2 separate regions of the Homo sapiens genome follow, and region 2 is linked to region 1. Evidence: fine-mapped expression QTL. Tissue or cell type: blood mononuclear cells. Region 1 holds a variant in brackets; the other region holds the start of a gene. All regions are shown on one strand. Distances are between the middles of the regions.

The links. PIP is the estimated chance that this variant, and not a neighbour inherited with it, causes the effect. A credible set is the group of variants that fine-mapping cannot tell apart.
Region 2: it holds the start of SH3BGRL, and the variant in region 1 is the best candidate, but not a certain one, in a credible set for the expression of SH3BGRL in blood mononuclear cells (TOPMed, PIP 0.61).

What each region holds. Positions count from the first base shown.
Region 1 is chrX:81,362,666-81,367,209 of GRCh38, forward strand. LOC105373284 (a long non-coding RNA gene) reads left to right here. Exons shown (of 2, transcript XR_007068280.1): 2 at 562-3,550. Among named protein-coding and RNA genes, the nearest start is that of SH3BGRL, 160 kb to the left of the region's middle. The variant C/T (reference allele first, on the strand shown) is at 2,425.
Region 2 is chrX:81,199,922-81,203,921 of GRCh38, forward strand. It overlaps SH3BGRL (SH3 domain binding glutamate rich protein like), which reads left to right and starts at 2,181. Exons shown (of 4, transcript NM_003022.3): 1 at 2,181-2,324. The coding sequence starts at 2,280. It overlaps HMGN5 (high mobility group nucleosome binding domain 5), which reads right to left and starts at 1,992. Exons shown (of 7, transcript NM_030763.3): 1 at 1,816-1,992. RefSeq lists enhancers at 1,837-2,086, 2,207-2,376.

The DNA of each region.
Region 1 (4,544 bases):
GTATTTATGTTTTCAATCAACAAATTTGCAGGAGTCCAAACTGTATATAAATTTCCACATCTTATATACATTCTAAGGTATAGTAATTTACTTCAATCTATGACTCAAATGACATTAATTAAAAAGGATAGTTAAAACCAATTCCTTGACAGCTGCCTTCATTTTAAGTAGACTCTTTGAAGATAGAAAGTTTATCATTTCTAAATAAACCCTTAAAGATAGTTGAATATAATAATTATACATTTGTATGTTTGTACTTCTAACACTTGCATGTGCACCATATAATATTACACTGACAATAGTCCCGTGAAGATTCATTAAATGATGTGTGCAGTATCATCATTTAACTGCTGAAAAATTTGAGACCGCAAAATGTTAAATAAATTAGCTTATGTTAAAAGTTCATTGCAGAACGGAAACCCAGGTTTAGTTATTCCTGGTCCTATTTCCTAAACTTTGAGCAACACGGCTTCCCTAAATTACTTTTATTTCACGTAGGAGTTAAATACTTATTTGACATTTTTAATGTACATTGCCTTAATGAGTTATTTTATATTACAGGAATATACTAGAAACTTACTTTGTAAAACTTGTCTAACAAAATGCTTAGAGAAGCTTTCCTAATTGATCTTCTGTACAAAGAACAGAAATATGCAAAATTTTGCAAACCATTTACATGTAAGAAGACTGAAAAGGAAACTTGGAAAAAGAAGATTTTAGATAGAGAAGAAAATTCACTTTCCTCTGCTAAGATGGAAAATCAAGAAACAACTAGGAAAGAAAGTGTAACAGAGCAAAATGATGATACAGATCAAATAAAATCTGTGGATGAGACAACTGTAGCAAAATGCAAAGGTATTACCTCTTCCAGGAAATGTGTCAGTTGCGTTGCCCATTTCAAAGAGAGAAAAACATGATCAAAGACAACTAGATTTATATAGATCCTGGTTGTGTATGAGTATTTGTCACAATTATTCTGACCTACAGATTGGAGGTGACGATGTGAGGAACATGTGTGATTCAGGCTGCTTTACGGAACACACACATAATGATGTTTTTAATGGTCCCCTTTTGTTTTCAGTTGGTAGGCCACTGGGTCATTCTCCTGTCATTGGGCCTCTAGAGACATTACCTACCTCAAAATTATTGAATGGGGATGAAAGCCAAGAAAAAAGTATGTTGTTTCATAAACAGCCCCTCTCTAATTCTATGCTTAATACTTATATGGAAAGAAAGGTGGACTAGCTCTGCAAACAATTATTGGAAGAAAATCTCACCAGATGCCACTCTGTAACCAATCTTATGGCTTCCAATTTGCTAATGAATAATGTAAATTACATCAGCTTTCAAATCTCTCAAGAGCAGAACATTGAGTTATGGAAAGCTCAGGAAGCTGCCCTACACTCTACCACTATGTAATCTGTGTAACATTTCTCATGGAAAGAGTGGAAAGAGTTCTTAATTCAGTACCCCTGACTTACAAATATCGAACCAGACAAGTAGGGAACTTCTATCACATCTACAGTAGATAACAAATGTAGGTTGTTTGGACAGACTTAAGAGACTGCAATAACAAGAGTTTTTTCTAGCTTATCATGTCACATCTAGCCTTCTTTGGGGTGTGGTTATTATAGTTTTTGAGAAATGATTTGACCCATGGTACATCTGAATTCTTATAGGAGACAACTATAGTAACTACGTTTTAGAGTGCAAGTTCTTAATGTGTTGATATTTTAATAGTTGCCAAACTAAACTCTGTATGCGTTTACCTATTTAATTGTCACTGGCACCCCAAATCAATTACCTCAGTGTCGCACAGCTTTATTTACAACAAAAATGGGATGAGGAGTGGATTATTGCTCCAAGATACTGAAGGACCATGAGAAGGTATATCAGAGAGGGACATTTATTTCCCCACAAAAACGCATTTATACTGACAATCAAAATAGTCTAGGGGAAATTATGATATGTAGTTATGGATATGGATATCTATATCTGGATATCTATATGTGGATATCTATATCTGGATATCTATATGTGGATATCTATATCTGGATATCTATATGTGGATATCTATATATCAAGATTGAGTATGGGGACATATAAAAGGAAATACTTTAAACAAAAGTCAAATTTAAATGATGTTTGAAAGAAACATGGAGGGAGGGCTTAAGGAAAAATGGAAAATTTGTAAGTACCATTTATATTGAAACTTGGTGCTTTGGAACTTTCCTGGAACGAGCATTAACTGTTTTATATCACTGTTATCTCTGGTTGTTTTTAGAGATGGGAGGAAAAAAAACACACAGGTAGAGTGAAGAAAGTAGAGAACCACCATTTAGAAATAAAAAGGTTCTCAGCAACTTATTACACATCAGATTATCCTCAATCATGATCCTGGCAGTAGTTTATTATGGAAATTTT[C/T]GGATCCAAATTAAATAAATTAACAAAATATATCTAAAGTAACAGTATAATTTATTGCAGACTTGGAAAGAAGACTCCATACTTTTAATAGAAATAGGAAAATGATAGACATGCACTTCTGTGTTGTAAAATAAAATGGTATTAATTTCTGTTATAGAATTCTTACAATTGCATTATGCATTAATAAGATTTGTGCATTGACAATCATATATTCCCTTCCATCCCTTCCAATTTTTTCTTGGGTCTTTGATTAACTCTTGTAGAATGAGTCACTGTAATGCCCTAATAGCTCGTTTTTTATGATCACACAATACTTCGTTTATTTTCACCCTCTTCAAATGTATATGATCTAATAATAGTAAGTACCCCTGATTTGTCTTCTGTTTTTCTCTTTATTGCTCCCTTCCACACCATCCTCTACCATAACCATACCAATTAATGTTTATCATTCAGACATTTGATTCTGAAGAGACAATGAGTAAGAGTTTAAAGTAACTCAGTATCTTTAGATATTGAAAAAAAGTTGTATGTATATTGTCTTTTATGCTGTTAAATTTCGGCATTTTAATAGGAGAGTTACTAAAATTATGAAATATTAATGTTAACATTTACAAAAGTGAATTAAATATCATGGGACAGTATTACTAGTGTGGATTGTTTTCTTAGGTCCAGTAATATGTATTAATATTTTATGAAACAGATATATTCATAAAGTGTTGAAATTACATAGTATCATATACAAAACCACAGTATTTAGTATATATCAAATTTATAAATGCATTTAATTACGCTCTCATATTTAAAATTTCCCCCTCTTTATCTGTGTCATCAAAATATTTATCATCTAAAGATACTCACTTATGGTTAAAATGGTTTAAAAATATAATGCAATTCTTAAGTAAGGAAAGATGATGAATTTGGTGTTACGTTTTATCCTGACCTCATACCTACTGACTTCAGTGCTTGAATGAAATATGCATATGACGTTGTGATTTAGCATAGTTTGGCTTTAAGTAGTCATTCTTCATTCTGTTGTTCACCATCGGTATTATTTATATGACCATAATGTTCCCTTTCAAAACATTTTTTGAAATGTATGGAATAATAAATTTCTTTTTGTCTCACATTTGCAGAAGTTGAAAGTATTCGTTTTGTGCTTCTATGAATATACAAAATGTAAATGATTCAGTCGTTGGGGAGGATCATCATGTTTTCTGGTAGGAAAAAAAGTCAAGGAGTTTATGAAGGATGCTGAATACAATGTTGCTCCCTGCTTATATAGATCAGTTTAATTTACATCCCGTCTTTGGATTTCAGGTCACTATTGTGGGTCCCAAAGTAGATTTGACCAAGTCTCAGGAAGTTTTCTGTCAAGAGTGTCCTTTAAACACCAACACCTATTTAAGAGATACAGTCTATACTGTACTCCTGGAATTTTCAGGCTCATTTTGTCTTATAGGTTAGTCCTCAAAAGAAGCCAGTCTCCCCGAGGTTATTAAGACTGGACCTAACACTGTGATGGTCCATTCAAGGTTGTAAGCAGACTTTCTGGGTCTTACTAAAACTTGTTTTTGGAAATGGAGAAACAAAGTAAATAGTTCCTGCTTTGGGGATGGAAGTATCTAATACCACGAAATTATTTTCCTGTTAAAAAATTAAAGGAATATATTTTTTAAGATAGTTTACTTTGAAGAGGTAAATGGCTAACTTAGCATTATTACGTAATGTATGTGTGGATGAAGGGTGGAGAGGTGACTTGATGAGAATTAGTGTGTAGGATAAACTGATAAACTGGAATAATTGTGTAGTTAAAGGAATGATTTTTTTTAGTCAATGCAGAAAGAAATCAACAAATTAATATCAACAGATATCTATTAAATCAAATTAAATGTAGTTTAATGTTTTCATAACTAGTCACTTGCATGGAAATTTAGCCAGTCAACTATGTATGTGTGAAAATCCATGAAAAAATGAAATAATAATTTGAAAGCAAAATAGTTATCACAGTGTTAAAATTAAGCTAGGTGTCCTTTTATTACCTAGGGGCAATTTGGAGCTTTTGGTCCTCAGTTACATTGTTATGTTCTTTTCCTCAAGGTCTAGTAAATTTGTAAAAATGG
Region 2 (4,000 bases), 160 kb before region 1:
TCATCAGAGTGAACAGGCAACCTACAGAATGGGAGAAAATTTTTGCAATCTACTCATCTGACAAAGGGCTAATATCCAGAATCTACGAAGAACTTAAACAAATTTACAAGAAAAAAACAACCCCATCAAAATGTGGGCAAAGGATATGAACAGACATTTCTCAAAAGAAGACATTTATGCAGCCAACAGACATATGCAAAAATGCTCATCATCACTGGTCATGAGAGAAATGCAAATCAAAACCACAATGAAATACCATCTCATGCTAGTTAGAATGGCAATCATACAACAGATGCTGGAGAGGGTTTGGAGAAATAGGAATGCTTTTATACTGTTGGTGGGAGTGTAAATTAGTTCAACCATTGTGGAAGACAGTGTGGCGATCCCCCAAGGATCTAGACTAGAAATGTCATTTGACCCAGCAATCTCATTACTGAGCATATACCCAAAGGATTATAAATCTTTCTATAATAAAGACACATGCACATGTATGTTTATTGCAGCACTATTCATAATAGCAAAGACTTGGAACCAACTCAAATGTCCCAGTGATAGACTGGATTAAGAAAATGTGGCACATGTACACCATGGAATACTATGCAGCCATAGAAAAGGATGAGTTCATGTCCTTTGCAGGGACATGGATGAAGCTGGAAACCATCATTCTAAGCAAACTATCACAAGGACAGAAAACCAAACACCACATGTTCTCACTCATATGTGGGAGTTGAACAATGAGAACACATGGACACAGGACAGGGAACATCACACCCCGGGGCCAGTCGGGGGGTGGGGGGCTGGAGGAGTGATAGCATTAGGTGAAATACCTAATGTAAACAACGAGTTGATGGGTGCAGCAAACCAACATGGCACATGTATACCTATGTAACAAACCTGCACGTTGTGCACATGTACCCTAGAATTTAAAGTATAATTAAAAAAAAATAAGAAGGTGGCCTCTGGAGTTCCTAACTCTGGAATGTACTAACCATATGATTTTAGGAAAACTATTTTTCTGAGTTTCAGTTTCTTCATCTGTAAAATTAATGTAATAGTACCCACCTCTTGAGGTTGTTTTAAGGACAACATGTAAAGAGATTAATTTGGAATTAGTATTTAAGACAGATTGGAGAAGGGAAAACCTGTGGGTAGGGAACAGTTAACAAAGCTATTGTAAGCACTGAGCCTAGGCAAAGACAGTAAACCACTAGACTGGAGACAGTGGAAAAACAGCAAAGGAAAAGAAGTAGGACAAGCGACTGACTCCTCTCCACTCTCATTCATCTTGCAAATTCCTTTTTTTCTGTTCATTTAACATAATCTGGGAACCTAAAACTACACTTTGAAGTATATGGTCTGTCTCTGGACATTATTAACTGTTTGCTCATTTCCTTAGAGCTACAAATAACCATCTGATCTCTCTCTTCACCATTTCAACATCTGCAATATGTTCTCCCAAATCCCTTACTTCAGTCAGTTAAAAAGCAAAACAAAACAAAAATCATCCATCTTTTTACACAATATTTTCAATCTTTTCTTTGTAATTTATTCCTTCATTCTTAAACTTGCCAATCAGGCCTCCTGCAAATTCCCACGGAAGCAGGGTTCCCTAATTTAACAAAACACAAAATTCAAAAAGAAAACCAATCCTGCCATTTCTGGGCTTAAGGAAACCTGAAACTTTCCTTCAAAACTCTGCAGCATTGCTCAGTACTTTAGTGCCTAATTCCTACAACGAGCTAAGATCAGAAAAATCACTACGTAATAGGAATCTTAAAATGCGCAAGGCTTTGAGAACATGGGTTTTCAACATACAGCTTGCTCTTTCAGGATCTGTCTTCTTATTTGCATATATTTCTGAGCAGGAAGTTATGCGCAGTACTTTTAGTCTCCGCGTGAAAAGGTCCTTCATGCTAATCTAATTCAATTCAGTTCTCCTTTTTCTTTCTTCTTCTCCTCGCCCTCTTCTCAGGGAAGGAATCGTCAAAAATCAATGTTTCAACAGATCTCGCGGTGCTATTCGAGATTCCCTATTAAAAAAAAATAGAATTGATGCAAACAGCCTGTTCCTTCCGGGGTTTTGGGCTGGAACTGCAGCGCTTAGAGAGCTCGGTGGAAGCTGCTAAAGGCGGAGGCGGGGCTCTGGCGAGTTCTCCTTCCACCTTCCCCCACCCTTCTCTGCCAACCGCTGTTTCAGCCCCTAGCTGGATTCCAGCCATTGCTGCAGCTGCTCCACAGCCCTTTTCAGGACCCAAACAACCGCAGCCGCTGTTCCCAGGATGGTGATCCGTGTATATATTGCATCTTCCTCTGGCTCTACAGCGGTAAGGAGAGTGGGGAGTCCACCTTTGTTGTTTTCCTACACACCAGTCCTCTGCTGCCCCAGAACCATTAAAATGCAGAAGTTCCTCTGGCAGCTTCTCCTTTGGAAGACTCATGCATCCCCGATCCCACCCTTCTTCTTCCCTTTTTTCCCTTTGTTGCATCGATTTCATTTTTTTTTTTTTCCACATAGAGTTCAGCTTTGTTTGCTTCGTGACGTTGGGGGGCACATTTCTGCTTTGAAGGAAAACGAAAGCTACCAAGTTTTGGGAGATGGGAGATGGTGCTATACGGTCTTTAGGGTTACGTGAAGTCAAGTAAAATCGCACACTGGTGAGTTTCAAGAGTGAGACATTTGATGAATACGCCCTAAGTACTGAGACAAGGAGGAGTGCACTTCTGTAAAGGATGGGGGTACACATGCTGTAACTGGTGGGGATTGAGTGGAGGCCTACCGAGGCATTGTAATTATTCTGGGTGAGTGAGACCCTGGTAATAGAGTTATTTTGAGAGTGTGTAGAAGAAAGTGGTTAACTTGAGCTTGAAGGCCTGTTAGAACTAGACAAATTGGGAGGGGAAGTTGGTAACAATGACGTAAATTTTTTTTTAACTTAATATGACACGAGATTCAGTTTTCCCCCCATATTGTCCCTTATTTTGACTGTTTCTATTCTTTCAAAATATTTTACTTTTAAATTTCTCTCACTGCTTCAAGTATATTGAGAACTGGATAGGGAGCTCAGTGGCTTCTTGTGTAGTGGCAGCCTGAGTTGCTGCTGCTTCAAATGATAGGACTTTCTCTTTCATGGATTCACTTACTCTTAATTTAGAATAACAAATTTTCAGCAGCTGTCGGGAGAATATGATAAACTGGGGTGCAAGATGAGTGTATATCCATGATAAATGAAAGTGCTTCTGCTTTTTACAACTCAAGAGAAAGGCAGACAGTGGCAAGAACAGATGTGTGGGTTCAGATTGTAGGGTATAGGAACCCCTTCCCTCTTCTTGAGCTTTAGAGCAGCAGCTAATCCAGGTTGTTGTGTGTTTTTATTTTTTGGCTTGTTTATTTACACCTGAGAGGATGTGGAATGGAAGTGGAGGTTATGTTAAATCACAAGAACCTTGATATTTGAACTTTGTCTTCTCTGGCCACCATGTGTGGATATGTTTATGCAATTTTGGAATATCAGAAAATTTAATCTTACATTTTTTGAATAAGTTTAGGTTAAAAAAAAGAACACCTTTTATATTTCCTTTGGACCTAATTTTATGAGCCTCTTGCTTTATTATTTTCCATACATGTTGTCTAATATTTCAAAGTAAAATTTGAGTTGCTCAGAGTCTCAACTCAATCCAATAATTGTAAAGTCCAACTTAATGCCTTTAGTTAAACCCCTAATGAGACTGAACAGATCAGGCAGTTAGTTTTGCTTTGGGAGTCATACAGTTTCAATACTGTTATTTATTCTTTGCTTTCTCCTTCCTCTACCCCTTCTTTAAAAGTAGATTCAACAAGAAACTGCTTTCAGAATTTCTATTCAAGTAAGAATAACTGCACCTCTCTTTGTTAAGTCTTAAGTTTCCAAGAGCCTTAGAAATGGCTGCTGTCTTCTATTATTTCCTTTATTGGACTCCTTTTTTTTTTTATTTAGATTTCAACTTTTATTTTAGATTCAGA